Homo sapiens: one gene and its partner. The protein of the gene in region 1 interacts with the protein of each later gene in a pairwise test. Each region holds a gene or a part of one and is shown on either strand. Other genes may lie near its edges.

Evidence for each region. Proteins that work in one complex are often made in the same cells at the same time.
Region 2: the proteins of ZNF587 (region 1) and INSC interact in binary tests that used the Homo sapiens proteins (3 or more experiments, as listed by UniProt).

The regions. Positions count from the first base shown.
Region 1 is NC_000019.10:57,862,738-57,865,617, reverse strand, and holds the end of ZNF587 (zinc finger protein 587), read right to left. Parts: 3' UTR 501-2,880; downstream 1-500. UniProt on the Homo sapiens protein: May be involved in transcriptional regulation.
Region 2 is NC_000011.10:15,121,423-15,124,922, forward strand, and holds part of INSC (protein inscuteable homolog), read left to right. Parts: intron 1-3,500. UniProt on the Homo sapiens protein: May function as an adapter linking the Par3 complex to the GPSM1/GPSM2 complex. Involved in spindle orientation during mitosis. May regulate cell proliferation and differentiation in the developing nervous system.

The DNA of each region.
Region 1 (2,880 bases):
CTGCCAGGTTCAAGCAATTCTATGCCTCAGCCTCCTGAGTAGCTGGGATTACAGGTGCTAATTTTTGCATTTTTAGTAAAGACATGGTTTAACCATGTTGGTCAGGCTGGTCTGGAACTCCTGACCTCGTGATCCACCCACCTCGGCCTCCTGAAGTGCTGGGATTACAGGCATGAGCCACCACACCCAGCCAGGAAAGTTCCTTATAGATTCTTTCTAGCTATTGAAAAGAGAATTATAATCATCTAAAGAGGATTAATTCAACACTTAGGGAAAGTAGAGGTTAGCAAGAGGAAGTTACTTCTCTTAGAGTATGTGATTCAAAGGAAAAAATGTGCCACATCAAATATACATGGACTGGCTAAACATTTCTAGGTACATGTAGATTTATAAGCCACTGTAAGATTCAACACAATGAGGAAATTACTGGTGTAATAAAAATAAACATTAGATTGATGAAACACAGTAAAATAATTTCAAACAGGAAAGAGGTATGAATCTTTTGTACAAAAAAAGTTTGACATATATTTAATTCACATACAAGCAGGAAGATTAACTTCATAAGAGAATTAACAAAAGTTGTATTAATTCAAGACAAGAGACTGCAGAGACTAAAATTGCTTAGTACTGAAACTTTTGCTTATATAAACTGTAGTTTATGGAGAAAATAAAGAATTTTTTTGTTTTTTTTGAGGCAGGATCTCACTCTATTCCCCAGGCTAGAGTGCGATGGCACCATCTCGGCTGATTGCAACCTCCATTTTCCAGGAAGGCTCTTTAATTCCCCCTGATTACAAAGGTTTTGTGTGAACATAATTTGGTGTAATAAAAAAAAATTTACACCACAAGAGACAAACATACTCTTCAGTGTGTGTGGTCATAATTTGTTTGAACGAGCCCTTTTAAACTTCTAGATATCATTGAAACTCCTATGTTGATTAAAAATCATCAAAGATCTTTCCAGTGAGAAGGATGAAGATATTACTGAGAATGAAGTATCACTATTTCATGTATGTGCCTGTATGTGCTTATATAACATGCTGTAATACAAGGTGACATTTAGGGGCTGAGACTGTTAACATCTGACTGTACCTTGCTATTTGTAACTTACAATCTTATTCACATTTCTCAAGTGCCATGCCTTTAGGTGCCTATACATCATGCTATCATAGGATTTCTAGGGATAAGCCGAGTGCGGTGGCAGATGCCTGTAATCCCAGCACTTTAGGAGGCCGAGGGGGGTGGATCATGAGGTCAGGAGTTTGAGACCAGCCTGGCTAACGTAGTGAAAGCCCATCTCTACTAAAAATACAAAAATTAGCTGGGCGTGGTGGAGGGAACCTATAGGCCCAGCTACTCGGGAGGCTGAGGCAAGAGAATCACTTGAACCTGGGAGGCGGAGGTTGCAGTGAGCCGAGACCATGCCATTGCACTTCAGCCTGGGTGACAGAGTGAGACTCTGTCTCAAAAAAAAAAAAAAAAAAAAAAATTTAGGGATAATATCTAAGCCCATATAACATGCTGTTATAAAGTTATAAAGTATAACATTTATGGATTGAGTTTTTTTTTTTTTTTTGAGATGATGTGTCTCTCTGTCACCAGGTTGGAGTGCACTGGTGTGATATTGGCTCAGTGCACCTTCCACCTCCCAGGTTCAACCGATTTTCTGGCCTCAGCCTCCCGAGTAGCTGGGACTACAGGCACCCGCCACCATGCCCGACTAATTTTTGTATTTTTAGTAGAGACAGGAATTCACAATATTGGCCAGGGTGGTCTTGAACTCCTGACCTTGTGATCCGCCCACCTCAGCCTCCCAAAGTGGTGGGATTACAGGCCTCAGCCACCACACCTGGCCAAGATTCTTCATATAGCTGATTATCTTGCCATTTCTAACTTACAATCTTTTATCCACATTTCTTAACTTTCTTTTGTTACACTAAACGGGACAGGAAGTCTTAACTCTTGTATCCACCAAGCATGTTAGGAAAATAACAGAGATTCCATTAGCAAATTAAGCTCCCCAAAAAACACAAATACATATCTAAAAAATGTTGCAAAGACAAGAAGTGGCCAGGGCGTGTTGGCTCACGCCTATAATCCCAGCACTTTGGGAGGCTAAGGCGGGCGGATCACGAGGTCTGGAGATCGAGACCATCCTGGCAAATACAGTAAAACCCCGTCTCTACTAAAGAAAAGAATACAGGCCAGGTGCAGTGGCTCACGCCTGTAATTCCAGCACTTTGGGAGGCCGAGGTGGGTGGATCACGAGGTCAGGAGTTTGAGACCAGCCTGACCAACATGGTGAAACCTGGTCTCTGCTAAAAATACAAAAATTAGCTGGGTGTGGTGGCACGCACCTGTAATCCCAGCTAAAGAGGTGGCTGAGGCAAGGAGAAGTGCTTGAATCCAGGAGGTAGAAGTTGCAGTGAGCTGAGATTGCGACACGGCACTCCAACCTGGGCAAGAGAGCAAGACTCTGTCTCAAGAAACAAAACAAAAAAATTAAGCTGACGTGGTGGGCGCTTGTGGTCCCAGCTACTCAGGAGGCTGAGGCAAGAGAATGGCGTGAACCCGGGAGGTGGAGTTGCAGTGAGCCGAGATCGTGCCACTGCACTCCAGCCTGGGTGAAAGAGTGAGACTTCTCAAAAAAAACACAAAGTGTCCACTCAATAACTTTGCTTGAAACTGTCTTCATGTTCTTCACTTCACAAATATAAAGCTGTTACAGTGGACTTTGTGAGGTTCCATGTTTTTGGTCAGCCATAAGAGGAAGAATAATTCAGAGTGAGAGGAAACAGATTCTAGGCAGCCCTCAGGGAAGTTGAGGAGGTGGCACCCTGCCTCCGGGTCCCTCAGAATGTCCCATCTCCCTGTCAGTAT
Region 2 (3,500 bases), on another chromosome or scaffold:
TAGGGGCAGGAATACAACTGCAGTGAGGTTATGTCCTCTCCAGTTTTCATATCAGCAAGCACATGATGTGGGGATTGTCCCAGTGCTGGTGATGGGAGCTTTTATCACTTGCTTAAGAATAATGTCTGCCAGTTTCTCCACTGCAAAATTATTATTTTTTCTCTCTGGAATTAATAAGTAATTTGTAGTGAGATACTTTGAGACTGTGTATAACCTGTTCCTTATCAAACTTATACCCACTGATTTTATCATCGTTGATCATTTTGAATCAATTATTTCTTCCGTATTTAGTAGTTGGCATTCTACTTTAAAAAAATCTTTTCCCCACTCCCTCCCTTCCTATCACTAGGGTCTCATGAATTCTTCATTTATTCAATGGGTTATAGTCAATTATTATCTTTATTTTATCTCAATGTTCACATTGTCCCAAACTTGATTAGTGGGAGGCTCTGCAAGCTGGCTTTCTTTGTTTTTGATGCATCTCCATGATTCTCTGTGCTCTTCCTTACTATTTACTATAGCAAGAAGTTACAGGCTTAGTTTCCTTACTTTGCTACAGCCCTGGAATTAGCCATTTGTCTGAAGAGCCCTGGATCCTTTTAGTCGAAAATGGTATTTAGAAACCAAGATTTAAAGGCTACCTGTGCTCCTTGTGATTGGTGTGTCATCGTTTATATGCTCTCTTAGCAAACAGAGTTAGGACATATATGTATATTTATTTCTCCAATCAACCAATACAATACATTGTTACATGTTTTTAGAAGAAAAAACCCCAAAGACTGTGATAGAGAGTAATGGGGTAGGAATACTTTAGATTGGGTGGTTAGAAATGGCCTCTTTCAGGAGGCAATATTTAGACAGACAGCATGAGGTGGGTGAATGGATTGGAAGAAGAAAGAGCCTGGAGATTGTTTTAATTATTCATACAGTAATTACCAGGGCCTGAACTAAGTTCGAATGAAGAGGAGGTAGAATCAATAGGACACAGTGACCGGTGAATGCAGAAAGTGAGGGAGATGAAGGAGTCTAAGTGACTCCCAGTTTGATGCCTCAAAGGCCTCTCAAACTCAATGTGTCCAAAACAGAATTTCTGTAGTTCTTCATCCTACTGAAACCTGGTCCTCTTCAGGTATTTTAGATTTCGTTGAATGACTCCTTCGTCTGGGTAGCTGCACAAGGCAGACAGACCTGGCAGTCATCCTCAACACCTCTCTCCCTCAAAACCCATATCCAATCCGTCCCCATATCTTGTTGATATTAGCTTGTAAATATCTCTCAAATCTTTCACTTCTTTCCATCTCCACCAGCATCATCCTAGTTCATGGTACCATCTTCACATTTCTGGGGTACCACAAGAGCCCCCTGGTACCCTTATATCCACACTGGCTCCCCTCCAATTTGTTCTCCACACAGCAGCCAGAGCGCATTTCAAAACACAACTCTGTTCATATCATTTTCTTCCTTAAAAGTACATTAGTTGCCTCCTATTGATCTTAAGATAAAGACCACACTCCTTAATAAGTCCTACAAGGTCTTGCTTGCCTGGCCCTGCTGCCCTCTCCTACATCTCCCTACCCAGCACTCCCTCCCTGGCTCTCCCTGCCACACTGGCCTCAGCTGAGTCTCAGTCTCTAGGGCTTGTTAGGCTCCCTCCCACCATAAATCTTTGTATTTGCTGTTCCTCTGCTTAGAATGCTCGTTCTTCCTGACTCCACCTACCGAATTCCTGCTTTACTCTCAGTTCTCAGCTGAGTTGTCACTTTCATAATCTTCAGGACCAGGTCCAACCCCATTTTATAAAGTTTTAAAACATGTGCCTCCTTCAAGCCTTTATCATAGTTTCAATTTTACATTTATTTATGTAATCATTAATGCTTACTTTCTCTATATGATGATGAGCTCTGTGAGTGTTGGAACCATGTCTGGTTTTGCTCGTTACTTTATCCTAGCAGGTATCATGGTACCATGTTACTGACACATGCCACAAATATATGTTGAACAAATGAATGAATGAAGATTTATCATCTGAGTAACCAGATAGATGATGGAACCATTCAGTGGAATAAAAATGAGAAGAGAAGTAGATTTGAGGAGGAAAATGATCATTCATTTTGGGACACCTGGCATTTGGGGTGCCTGCCAACCATGTCTGTCCCTCAGAGACCTTACCATCTTCTGTACAAATTAAGATGTCACTAAGGAGCTTTTGGGAGGCTGGTGACAGGTACATCTAATTCCCGGATGATTCTAAGAAGGTCCCTGGAGGAGATGGCTAAGTCACAAGTGGCATCCCTGAGCTGTGGCTTCTCTATCTATCCTTATCTCTGGTTTGTAGACCATACAGGAGATAGAAGGGGTTCCCAGGTGGTCCTGACTTGGCTCCTTGGGGACTTGTATAAAATATCTTTACAATTCTATGGAAGACTCCTTGGAACAAATGATTCACATTTGTCAGGAGCTGTCAACCTCCTTCCTACCTCTAACACTGCACTAGACATATGCTTAAAGGAGAATACAGAAAGTGGGTCTTACTAAGTCCAGTGAGCCATCCTTTCAAAGATGTCATCAGCACTAGGACAGAACAGCCCATTCCATCCCTCTGACTCACTTACTCTTACATTCCTCACTCACTCATTCAACTTTCTATCTCCTCTTGTTCATTCACCCACACACCCATCTGTCACCCAGCTATCCATCCGTGAACAAGAGTTTATGTTGGATTTATAGCAGGACTCAAGGCTAATGCATTATCTTCAGCCCCACTCCTGTATCCCTCTTTTCTATGGTCCTCACAGCTCAGAATCCCAGGTGAGGAGACTGTCAGGGGTTGGGGAGATGTCACTGTGCTGGTCTAGGGCTGGGCTGGGTATGATTGCAGGGTGTCAGCAGGAAGAATGGGAGACCAGAAGTGGCCACACTGATTACTCCTCTTGGCTCACTATCTGCTTTTCTGGCTTCCCCTCTTTCATTGGTGATGAGAAATTAGAGATTAGGCTCCTTATTCAGGTAGATATAAGATAGACTGGGCTTTGCAGAGGTGTTAGGGGGCTCTGGCCTTAAGGGGAAATAGGAACACAGCTCCCCATGAGCCCTATGGTGGAAAAGGTGATGCTTTTGTTTTCTTCTTCATTTTAGACTATGATTGCACTTTGGCCCTGTGGAATTTGCAGAGAGGCTGGGGGAGGGTGGGAGAGTAGGATTTTAAAATGTGGCATTTAGAAACCAGGCAGTAGACTAATCCTGGCCCCATCCCCATAGAAGCTGTTCTTTCAGTTCTCTTAGGCTTGTCATTTACAAAGAGCTCCCTAGAATGTGTGCTGTCCATCTGCTTTGGCGGCTGACAGGGCTGGAATTGAGCAGGCATAGGACAATGACAGCCACATTAGATAACAGCATCTTGGAAAAATGCCTGAAGGTTGCAAGGGTCTAAGTTACAGACTCATTTGCTCATTCCCTCCCTCACGAATTCATTCATTTATCTACTTAGCACCTACCTAGTA